Homo sapiens: one gene and its partners. The gene in region 2 interacts genetically with the main gene of each other region. Each region holds a gene or a part of one and is shown on either strand. Other genes may lie near its edges.

The links.
Region 1: changes in ATP1A1 (region 2) and TCOF1 together harm fitness more than expected from each alone (negative genetic interaction), as found in Homo sapiens cells (one large-scale study listed by BioGRID).
Region 3: changes in ATP1A1 (region 2) and PDSS2 together harm fitness more than expected from each alone (negative genetic interaction), as found in Homo sapiens cells (one large-scale study listed by BioGRID).

Annotation. Positions count from the first base shown.
Region 1 is NC_000005.10:150,374,604-150,378,253, forward strand, and holds part of TCOF1 (treacle protein), read left to right. Parts: intron 1-13; coding exon 14-208; intron 209-350; coding exon 351-560; intron 561-735; coding exon 736-951; intron 952-1,117; coding exon 1,118-1,306; intron 1,307-1,478; coding exon 1,479-1,727; intron 1,728-1,819; coding exon 1,820-2,017; intron 2,018-3,650.
Region 2 is NC_000001.11:116,390,127-116,393,776, forward strand, and holds part of ATP1A1 (sodium/potassium-transporting ATPase subunit alpha-1), read left to right. Parts: intron 1-86; coding exon 87-285; intron 286-655; coding exon 656-765; intron 766-2,727; coding exon 2,728-2,862; exon of another isoform or gene 2,863-2,900; intron 2,901-3,404; coding exon 3,405-3,597; intron 3,598-3,650. UniProt on the Homo sapiens protein: This is the catalytic component of the active enzyme, which catalyzes the hydrolysis of ATP coupled with the exchange of sodium and potassium ions across the plasma membrane.
Region 3 is NC_000006.12:107,449,493-107,453,142, reverse strand, and holds part of PDSS2 (all trans-polyprenyl-diphosphate synthase PDSS2), read left to right. Parts: intron 1-3,650. UniProt on the Homo sapiens protein: Heterotetrameric enzyme that catalyzes the condensation of farnesyl diphosphate (FPP), which acts as a primer, and isopentenyl diphosphate (IPP) to produce prenyl diphosphates of varying chain lengths and participates in the determination of the side chain of ubiquinone.

The DNA of each region.
Region 1 (3,650 bases), on a different chromosome or scaffold from region 2:
CTTGTTTCTCCAGGCGAAGGCCTCAGGAAAAACCTCTCAGGTCGGAGCTGCCTCAGCCCCTGCCAAGGAGTCCCCCAGGAAAGGAGCTGCCCCAGCGCCCCCTGGGAAGACAGGGCCTGCAGTTGCCAAGGCCCAGGCGGGGAAGCGGGAGGAGGACTCGCAGAGCAGCAGCGAGGAATCGGACAGTGAGGAGGAGGCGCCTGCTCAGGTGAGGCAGAGGGGAGGGGTGGAGAGTAGCCCCATGCCTAAACCCCAGCACCTGCATGGGTGTGGCCACCTTTGCCACATCCAGCTCCTGTCTCCACACGTCCACCCTCTGGGCTCTCCCCTCATCCTGTTTCTCACTCCAGGCGAAGCCTTCAGGGAAGGCCCCCCAGGTCAGAGCCGCCTCGGCCCCTGCCAAGGAGTCCCCCAGGAAAGGGGCTGCCCCAGCACCTCCTAGGAAAACAGGGCCTGCAGCCGCCCAGGTCCAGGTGGGGAAGCAGGAGGAGGACTCAAGAAGCAGCAGCGAGGAGTCAGACAGTGACAGAGAGGCACTGGCAGCCATGAATGCAGCTCAGGTGAGGCTGGAAGCCGCCCTGCATGGCCTGTGCCCTGCCTCAAAAGACCTCCTGTGGTTTTGACTTTTCCTCTCTGAACCTAGAGCCCTGTGCGGCTGGCTTCGTTTGCTCTCCTCCCCTCACTCACATTCTCCTTCTGGACTCCCTCCCTAATCTTGTCCTTTGTGTCTCCCAGGTGAAGCCCTTGGGGAAAAGCCCCCAGGTGAAACCTGCCTCTACCATGGGCATGGGGCCCTTGGGGAAAGGCGCCGGCCCAGTGCCACCCGGGAAGGTGGGGCCTGCAACCCCCTCAGCCCAGGTGGGGAAGTGGGAGGAGGACTCAGAGAGCAGTAGTGAGGAGTCATCAGACAGCAGTGATGGAGAGGTGCCCACAGCTGTGGCCCCGGCTCAGGTGAGGCCCCTTCCTGTAAGGCTCTTTCTTTTTCCCCCCCACTCAGAGTGGAGCTGCCTGTGGCCTCCCAACCTCACACTGGGACTCTGTCTACAATCTTAGTTTCTTAATGTCTGCACACACCTACCCTGGGCTCCCTCTCCCGATCCTGTGTATCTCACTCCAGGAAAAGTCCTTGGGGAACATCCTCCAGGCCAAACCCACCTCCAGTCCTGCCAAGGGGCCCCCTCAGAAGGCAGGGCCTGTAGCCGTCCAGGTCAAGGCTGAAAAGCCCATGGACAACTCGGAGAGCAGCGAGGAGTCATCGGACAGTGCGGACAGTGAGGAGGCACCAGCAGCCATGACTGCAGCTCAGGTGAGGCCTGGGGAAGGAGGCTGCTACATGGCCTGATCTGCCACACCACAGTCAGCACCCCCGGGGAGCTGTGCTCCCTCAGGCAGAGCATGGGTTTTGGCTGGTGGGGCAGAACAGATGGGGGACTCTGAGTTCAGGAACCTTCTCCAGCCTTTCTTTGGTGTCCCCTCAGGCAAAACCAGCTCTGAAAATTCCTCAGACCAAGGCCTGCCCAAAGAAAACCAATACCACTGCATCTGCCAAGGTCGCCCCTGTGCGAGTGGGCACCCAAGCCCCCCGGAAAGCAGGAACTGCGACTTCTCCAGCAGGCTCATCCCCAGCTGTGGCTGGGGGCACCCAGAGACCAGCAGAGGATTCTTCAAGCAGTGAGGAATCAGATAGTGAGGAAGAGAAGACAGGTCTTGCAGTAACCGTGGGACAGGTGAGGCCTGTGTTTTCTGGGCGGGCCTCAGGGCCGCCCCTACGTGGTCCTTTGGACTCCTGGAGACACCTCTCTTCCCCTTGTCATCCCAGGCAAAGTCTGTGGGGAAAGGCCTCCAGGTGAAAGCAGCCTCAGTGCCTGTCAAGGGGTCCTTGGGGCAAGGGACTGCTCCAGTACTCCCTGGGAAGACGGGGCCTACAGTCACCCAGGTGAAAGCTGAAAAGCAGGAAGACTCTGAGAGCAGTGAGGAGGAATCAGACAGTGAGGAAGCAGCTGCATCTCCAGCACAGGTGAGGCCTAGAAGGAGCAGGCCCATCCCACCCACACCTGTTCCTGAGCCAGGGCTGAGGATGGGCTTGACTGGGGGCTAGTGTTGCCTGCAGGTGTGCAGAAGCCTCAGAGGTAGCCTCAACACAGCTTCCTTCCCTATCTTTCACTCCATGTCTCCTCTGCCCATCAGAGCTCCAGGGTCTCTGTCTTGTTTGCCTTTTGAGGTCCTCCTGCTGATTGATTCCCTGTGGTTTTCACAAGCTCTGGAGTTCCCACCCTGCCAGGTGCTGCCCTTGTCTGGGGTTGCTGAGGCGCTGTTCCTCAGGGAAGTCCTGTCTCTGTGGAGCATGGACATGCTCCTGCAGTGTGGAGCGATGGGGTTGAGATAGAGGGTGTGAGCCTGGGCTGCGCAGCATGACAGGTGAGAGCATCTAGGCCTTTTACAGGAGGTGGCAGCATCTGAGCCATGGGCTGAAAGAGTTGGCCAGGTGAAATGGGCAGGGAGAGTGTTCCAGGCAGAGGAAGCAGTCTGTGCGAGGCCAGGGAATGAGAGAGTGCCTGGCTTGGGTGCCTTGCCACAGGCGGCACATTGTGGTGGGATGGCTGGCAGTTGTTTAGAGCCAGACCGCCTGGGTTCAAGTTTCAGCTCCACAGCCTGGCAAGTGCTGTAAGCCCTCAGAGCCCTTACTCTCCTATAAACAGGAAATCAGCCCTCACAGGTTTGGGTGAGAATTTAGGTGAGATCTCACCTGCTACACCCAGCAAGGGAGCTGCACACAGCAAGTTGTCTCTGTCACCCTGACGATGGGCCAGGCTAATGTGGAACAGATCAGGAGTGAGGTCTCCAAGCCTGGAAGAGCTGAGAGAAGATGGCTCACTCCCTGCACTCACCCACCCACTGTTTATTATTTTTAATTGTCGCTCTGTTTTTTTCTGTAACCACTCAGAAATTAGTCATTTCTTTTTTCTCTGTACCAGAGCACACATTTCTACTGATTTTTTTTTGTCCTCCTCTCGTTGACTTGTGGGACCTCAGGGCTCTAGAATTCCTCCATTGAGGTTTTTAAGCTCTGCAGGGGCCCCTTCCAGAGCCGCCTCTACTCTTTCCCAAGCTGCAGGCACATTCCAGACCCAATGCCTTACAGAGTTTCATTATGCAGCTCACTTAAATATTTGTCTTCCCTTCTGAGCCTCCCACCTGTACCATGAGGTGGGTGTTTTATTTTTATTTTTTGAACCATGGGCTATTTTGAAGTAAGCCGTTTAATTTCCAAATATCTGGGATTACCCAGGTTTCTTTTTGTTGATTTCTAATTTAGTCACATTGTGGTTGGAGAACATATTTTGTATGATTTAAATCCTTTTTTGTGTATTGAGACTTGTTAGGTCAAGTCAGTCTTGTGTCTTGTTTCTTGTGGAAAACATGGCTCCCCTCTGGAGGATTTACGTGCTCTACTGATGAGCACCTCGGCCTGAGTCATACTTGGTCCACACTGTAGGGAATCTTCTTGAAGTCCTGATTCTTCACCTCATTTGACCTCATGTGTTTGAGGAATGCTGGGGGATGGGGTTGTTTTCTGACACTGACCAGATGCCATCCCTGAGTGAGGCAGGGGCCTTGAGATGCTGCCAGAGTCCTCATTCTGTTTCACA
Region 2 (3,650 bases):
ATTTCTTCCACATTAGGATATAGCAAGAATCTGTATAGAATTCCAGCCTGGTTGAGTGAAGTAATAATCTTCCTAATATTTTTTAGGTCTGTCTGACACTTACTGCCAAACGCATGGCAAGGAAAAACTGCTTAGTGAAGAACTTAGAAGCTGTGGAGACCTTGGGGTCCACGTCCACCATCTGCTCTGATAAAACTGGAACTCTGACTCAGAACCGGATGACAGTGGCCCACATGTGGTTTGACAATCAAATCCATGAAGCTGATACGACAGAGAATCAGAGTGGTAAGGCCAGGGTTACCACACACCTCAGCCACCTGCTGACTTCGCTTGGTTTTTTTTCTTTTAAGAAATTGCATGAAATTTCTTTTTTTTTTTTAAGCTCATGGCAGCTTTTTCTTTCTTTTTTGTTTTTTTTTTTTTTATCATTTAGTGAAGAGTCAAGGGTATGGGATATTGATTTTTTGCATGTCAGTAGAAACTTTAAATTGCCCTACAAACGTGACTGAAGAATGCCTAAAATGTGATTGGTTTCATTAATTGGGAAATGAGATGTATCACTGCAGATTTCTATGGGACTTTAATAGGAGAACTGAGAACACAGCCTTTGAAGTTAATGCATTGTTGTTCTGTTGTGTTTTCTTGCCTCCATCAGGTGTCTCTTTTGACAAGACTTCAGCTACCTGGCTTGCTCTGTCCAGAATTGCAGGTCTTTGTAACAGGGCAGTGTTTCAGGCTAACCAGGAAAACCTACCTATTCTTAAGGTATGCTCAAGAGTTAACTAATGGAGGGATGTAGACAGCACATGAGAACTGCCATTTGAGTGTTAAAAGTAGCAAATTACCTTTGTGGTCTGTGTGACTGTTCACTGTAGAACACCTGGAGTGGTCTGTGCAGTACTTTGCTGTGTGTAACTTACATTGTGTTGCCTGTAGATCCTGATGTATTATAGGACCCCCTGCTCCATATAGGTTGATTAAAAAGGGAAGATGCAGTAAAAATCTGACCAAAGTGGGAGGGGAGGAGACGGAAGACAGTCTTTATTGGTGAAAAACCTAATTCATCTGCTTTTACTACTCTTGAGTTTATATGTTATCACCTAACCTAGTGGACAGTGAGAGCTGAGGGCTGCAGTGACTCCATAATCGTATTTGCATATTAGGATACAGTAGATTCCAGTAACTCCTTTAAGCCATTTATTTTCCTGAAATAGCTCAGCTTATCTTATCTTATTGGTTCTTAGCTTGTTTACTAATGATGTAAAAATAAGCTCCAGGCCAAAATAAGCCCAGCCTTAGCCTGTGGAATTCTGATGCAGTTTGAAATGATTGAGATTTTACTATGCTGCCCAAGTGAAGATGCAGTCTCAGAAGGATCATGAATTGTACAAAGTCCTGTAGGAGAAGAAAGCTATGTGAGGCTCTCTGGGTCCCACATTCTCTGTGAAGCTGCCTGTAGTAGTTGTGGGTATAAACTAAGTTGCCAAAGGGAATATGGCTTGGATGTAACTCAGATGCCTTCTGTGATGAGGATAGGGTTCATTTATTCTGCAAAGGAGATTTTCTTGGCATTGAATTGATGTTGATTTGAGGATAATGTTGTGTATCTTGAGGATAAAACTTGAGATAAATGTTTCATGTTTTTCTTTACCTCAAAGTGGAAATGTTCTAGGCTTTGAGCATCAGGTCCCACAAGTATCAAATCTTTCCTGATTAAAAAACCCCAGAAAGGTAGCAGAAGCTGTATTCCAAGTATTTCTGGAGTTCGGCCATGTTGATGGCATTATTACTAAAAAGCGGGGAGGGAGAAGCAGCCCTATTCTGCTTTTATTAAAAATGGCTTTTATTAAAATAAGTGGCTTTTATTTAAAATGTCCCCCACTTATTTTGTGTTTCTTTCCAAACCCAGCCAACTTTCTTGCTCTGTGGAGCTGCTATACTTCTGAGCATTGATCTGTTCATCTGCATATGCAGCCTTACATGTTAAGGTTCTAAAAGGTTTACCTATATAAAATTTGTTTACAACTGAAAATGCTTTCAGTATGTCAAAATATAAGTGTGTCATCATGTATCATAGAAAATATGTGTGTCACTGAAGCATGGGCTTTAACTAAAATGTTACGTGGTTCGATTTTATTACTGTTGGAGTTGGTAATAGCTTTCAGTTCACATCCTTCAGGCCCAGTTAATTTTGCACAGTTATGATTAGAATGCACAGTCTTCTACTTTGCCCTTGACACAGGCAGCTTGTCCCCAGTCCTGAGACCTTAAGCATTTTCTTACGAATTCTACGGTAATGAAAGGTGCTATAAATGTTTAATCTCTCACTTGGTATTTTCAGATAAGTAACCAGAAGTAGGTAGTTGGGAATAGCATTGGCTTTGAGACTTTTCAGTAGGCCAGGGGAAGATAGAAATAGACTGCAGTAGGTTGGAAGGGTGTGTTAATACCTCTTCTAGGGAAGGTGACACCTTCCCACACCCTTCTTTCACTAGAAGCTGCTGTGGGGTGGGGAAGGACGTTGGGGTTTGAGTCTGAAGCACTGTGAACAGCAGTGGTCGGGGCTAGAGGGACTCCTGTCCCACTTAACACCGCTGCTTCCTTCTTGCCCATCCTCTGCTACCTCTGACAAGATTGGAATGTGTCTTGAGTTATTTTTCCTGTTTTTTAGTGATGCCTCAGTGAAATTTTTTGGAGATAATTTACAGATGATGTCTCTGTTCACAGCGGGCAGTTGCAGGAGATGCCTCTGAGTCAGCACTCTTAAAGTGCATAGAGCTGTGCTGTGGTTCCGTGAAGGAGATGAGAGAAAGATACGCCAAAATCGTCGAGATACCCTTCAACTCCACCAACAAGTACCAGGTCTGAAGATCGATGGGTACACGGAGGGCGAGGGCAAGCTGGGGGACAAAGAGGGGAGGTACATGAGCAGGAAGAGGAAATATTCTCCCTTTGGAGTTTTATAAGCTTTAGCTTTAAATTTTGCCCTTGATTACCATAGAATGCCATAATTTAGTTGAATATCAGCAGGATAAATGAAGCCTCTTGCAAAACACTGTTGAGCCCTTTTGAATACTTGTGGTTTGGGGTGGGTGTGGGCATGTGGGGAGGTGGCTGGAGGTATGTGTACACAAGTGTTCCCCAATCCCTGTGTTCTGAAATTTCGTATGTTCTTTTTTAATGTGAACAAATGTCAGGAATTTATGAATATATCATAGTGCTCATTTTTTTTTTTTTCTGTAGCATTCAAAGTATGTTACAGGTGTAAGATACTTCAGAGTTCAGAAAGAAGGGATCTTGGGTCTTTTATAGCAAATACTAAATAGTAAGTGAAGCTTTGTTTTCCACCATGGACTGCCACACATCCAACCATCCAATGTTTATGTCTCAACAATCCTTCACAGTTGTCTATTCATAAGAACCCCAACACATCGGAGCCCCAACACCTGTTGGTGATGAAGGGCGCCCCAGAAAGGATCCTAGACCGTTGCAGCTCTATCCTCCTCCACGGCAAGGAGCAGCCCCTGGATGAGGAGCTGAAAGACGCCTTTCAGAACGCCTATTTGGAGCTGGGGGGCCTCGGAGAACGAGTCCTAGGTATGCAGATAACCTGGTAACAGAGTGCCTGGGCACGTTTTTATCCAGTAACC
Region 3 (3,650 bases), on a different chromosome or scaffold from region 2:
AGCCGAGACTGCACCACTGCACTCCAGCTTGGGCGACAGAGCAAGACTCAGTCTCAAAAAAAAAAGAAAACATAGGATAACATCTTCAGGACCTAGGGCTAGGTAAGCAGTTCTTAGACATGACACCAAAAAATTCATAAAAGAAAACAATAATTGGACTCCATAAAAGTTCAAAACTGGCCAGGCGTGGTGGCTCACGCCTGTAATCCCAGCATTTTGGGAGGCCGAGGCGGGCAGATCACAAGGTCAGGAGTTCGATACCAGCCTGACCAACATGGTGAAACCCCATCTCTACTAGAAATACAAAAATTAGCTGGGCGTGGTGATGTGCACCTGTAATCCCAGCTACTCAGGAGGCTGAGGCAGGAGAATCGCTTGAACTTGGGAGGCGGAGGTTGCAGTGAGCCGAGATTGCGCCACAGCAAGCCAGCCTGGGAGACAGAGTGAGACTCTGTCTCAAGAAAAAAAAAAAAGTTTGAAACTTAGCTCTGTGAAAGACCCTGTAAAGAGGGTGAAAAGTTTAGCCACAGACTGGGAGAAAATATTTGCAAATCACATATTCAAAGAAGGGCTTGTATCCAGGTTATGTAAAGAAATCTCTGAACTCAAGAGGTTGGGTGCGGTGGCTCATGCCTGTAATCCCAGAACTTTGGGAGGCCGAGGCAGGTGGATCACTTGAGGCTAGGAGTTTGAGGCCAGCCTGGCTAACATGGTGAAACCCTGTCTCTACTAAAAATACAAAAATTAGCCGGTGTGGTGGTGGGTGCCTGTAGTTCAAGCTACACCAGAGGCTTAGGCAGGAGAATCACTTGAATCTGGGAGGCAGAGGTTGCAGTGAGATCGCGGCACTGCACTCCAGCCTGGGCAACAGAGTGACACTCTGTTGCAAAAAAAAAAAGAACTCTCTAAACTCAAGAAAGCAAACAATACAATTAGAAAATAGGGGAAAAAGCTTGTGCGGTGGTGCATGCCTGTAATCCCAGCTACTAGGGAAACAGAGGCAGGAGGCTTCCTTGAACCCAAGAGTTTGACTTCAAGGCTGCAGTGAGCTATGATTGTACCACTGCACTCTAGCCTTGGCAACAGAGCAAGACTTTGTCACTTAAAAAACAAAAAAGAAGAAGAAAGAAAAGAAAATGGGCTAAAAGAAAAACCTATAAAGGTAGCAAGTAAGCATATGAAAAGATGTTCAACATTATTAGCCTTTTGGGAAATGCAAATTAAAATCACAATGGGATGTTGAGGTGATCGGGCCCAACACCAGGCCCTGAGGGCTACAAAGTCTGGCGGGGTCAAAGGAATGAGAAAAGACAAGTTAAGAGTTCATAAGGTGTGTCCAGAGGGCCAGCGCTAGATTGGAGGCTGCAAAGGCCCCGAGCTCTGGGAACCCGCCCTATTTATTGGTGATCAAACAAAGAAGCAGGTGGTGAGGACATGAGGGTAAACAGGTGAGGGCATGAGGAGGTGAGAGTAGAAAGGTAGTGGTGCATTAAGTGTAGCTGTGACGGTTTAGCACTTCCTTTGACCCATATAGAATATGCTCTGCTGCTTGAGATAATGGAGGGCATGTTTACAAGAAAGAAGCAAGGAACCAACAAGTCTGTGCACATTCCAGAGGCTACGAGGGGTTTATGCCCTGAGCCCTGGATTCCATCAAAGCCACAAGGGGTTTTATGCCCTGGGCTTAGATTTGTGGTGCGGCAGTGTAGCCTTCCACCCTTTGGCACAGAGCTTGGTGTTCCAAAGGCCACGAGGGGTTTCAGACCCTGGATCCCGGACATCTTCCAAGACTCTTTTACATTATGACAGACAAGCCAGTCCTGCCTCAGCTCTTCTACCAACAATGGGATACTACTATGTACCAATTAGAATGGCTAAAATAAAAAATATAATATGTAATTCTAGTAACGATGCAGATAAACTAGATTTCTCATGCATTGCTGATGGGAATGTAAAATGGTTCGGCCCCTCTGGAAAACAGCATAACAATTTCTTATAAAATTAAACATACGACTGGGCACAGTGGCTCACGCCTGTAATCCCAGCACTTTGGGAGGCTGAGGCAGGCAGATCACTTGAGTCCAGGATTTCAAGACCAGCCTGGGCAATGTGGCAAAATGCTGTCTCTACAAAATATATAAAAAATTAGTTGGGTGTGGTGGTGCACACCTGTGGTCCCAGCTACTTGGGAGGTTGAGGTAAGAGGATCACTTGAGCGCGGAAGTTGGAGGCTGCAGTGAGCCATGATCGTGCCATTGCACTTCAGCGTGGGTGACAGAGTCAGTCCCTGTCTCAATCAATCAGTTGATTGATCAATCAGTTTAAACATACACTTACCATGTAGCCCAGCAATCAGACTCCTGAGCATTTATTCCAGAGAAATAAAAACTTATGTCCATACCAAAACCTATACACAAATGTTTGTGGCAGTCTTATTTGTAATAGGCTGCCATAACCTATAGAATTATAGGTTGAAAATCCTACATATATGTATTTCTCCTTTGCAGTTAAGTTTCTTGTATTAATGCCATTTTCATTCCACAGCTTGGATAGGGCTGTGTGTTCTTTCTAGAGGAAAGATCCTTTCTTTAGAATGATGTTCCATAATTTCACCTTGATGGTTTTTGGAGTGGAGAATGAAGGCCTTCTTAACTTAATCCTATATCCTTTATTTTGGGATGATTTTGTGTGTTATTTCTTCAGTATCATGGTTCCCACCATTTTTCTCTCTCATGTTGGAATTTTGTAGTTGGTCATTGTGAATTGATTCCTCAACATTCTTCCCCCTACATTCATAGTTTTCCTTTCTTTAATTTATCCTCTACATATATACTGTTTGTTATACTGTTTTAATTCTGTCTTTAATTATTTCCCAACTGGAAACAACCCACATATCCTAGTGAGTGGTTGAACAAACTGTGGTCCATACATAACAACGAAATGCTACCCAACAATAAAAAGAAATGAACCACTGATACAACAACTTGGGTGAATCTCAGATGAATTATTCTGAGTGAAAAAAGTCAATCTCATTCATCAAAAAATTAAAAATAGAATTACCATATGACCCAACAATTCTGCTTCTGGGTGTGTTTCCAAAAGAATTGAAAGCAGTGTCTCAAAGAGATATTTGTATACCCATGTTCATAGCAGCAGTATTCACAGTAGCCAAGAGGTAGAAGCAACCCAGTTGTCCATTGATGGTTGATAGGATTAACAAAATGTGGTATATATTACCATGGAATATTATTCAGCCTTAAAAAACAAGGAGGGACCAGGCACAGTGGCTCATGCCTGTAATCCCAACACTTTGGGAAGCTGAGGTGGGAGGATCACTTGAGGCCAGGAGTTTGAGACCAGCTTGGGCAACACAGTGAGACCCCATCTCTATAAAAAAATAAATTAACTAGACATGGTGGCTCCTAAAAATAAGTTGGCTAGACAGCTGCTCTAGAGGCCAAAGTGGGAGGATCGTTTGAGCCCACGTGTTTGAGGTTGCACACGTGTCATAATATGGATGAACCTGGAGGACATTATGCTGAGTGAAATATGGAGGACATTATGCTAAGTGAAATAAGCCAGTCACAAAAGGACAAATACTGTGTGATTCCACTTATATAAAGTGTCTAGAGTAGTCAAATTTAGAGAAA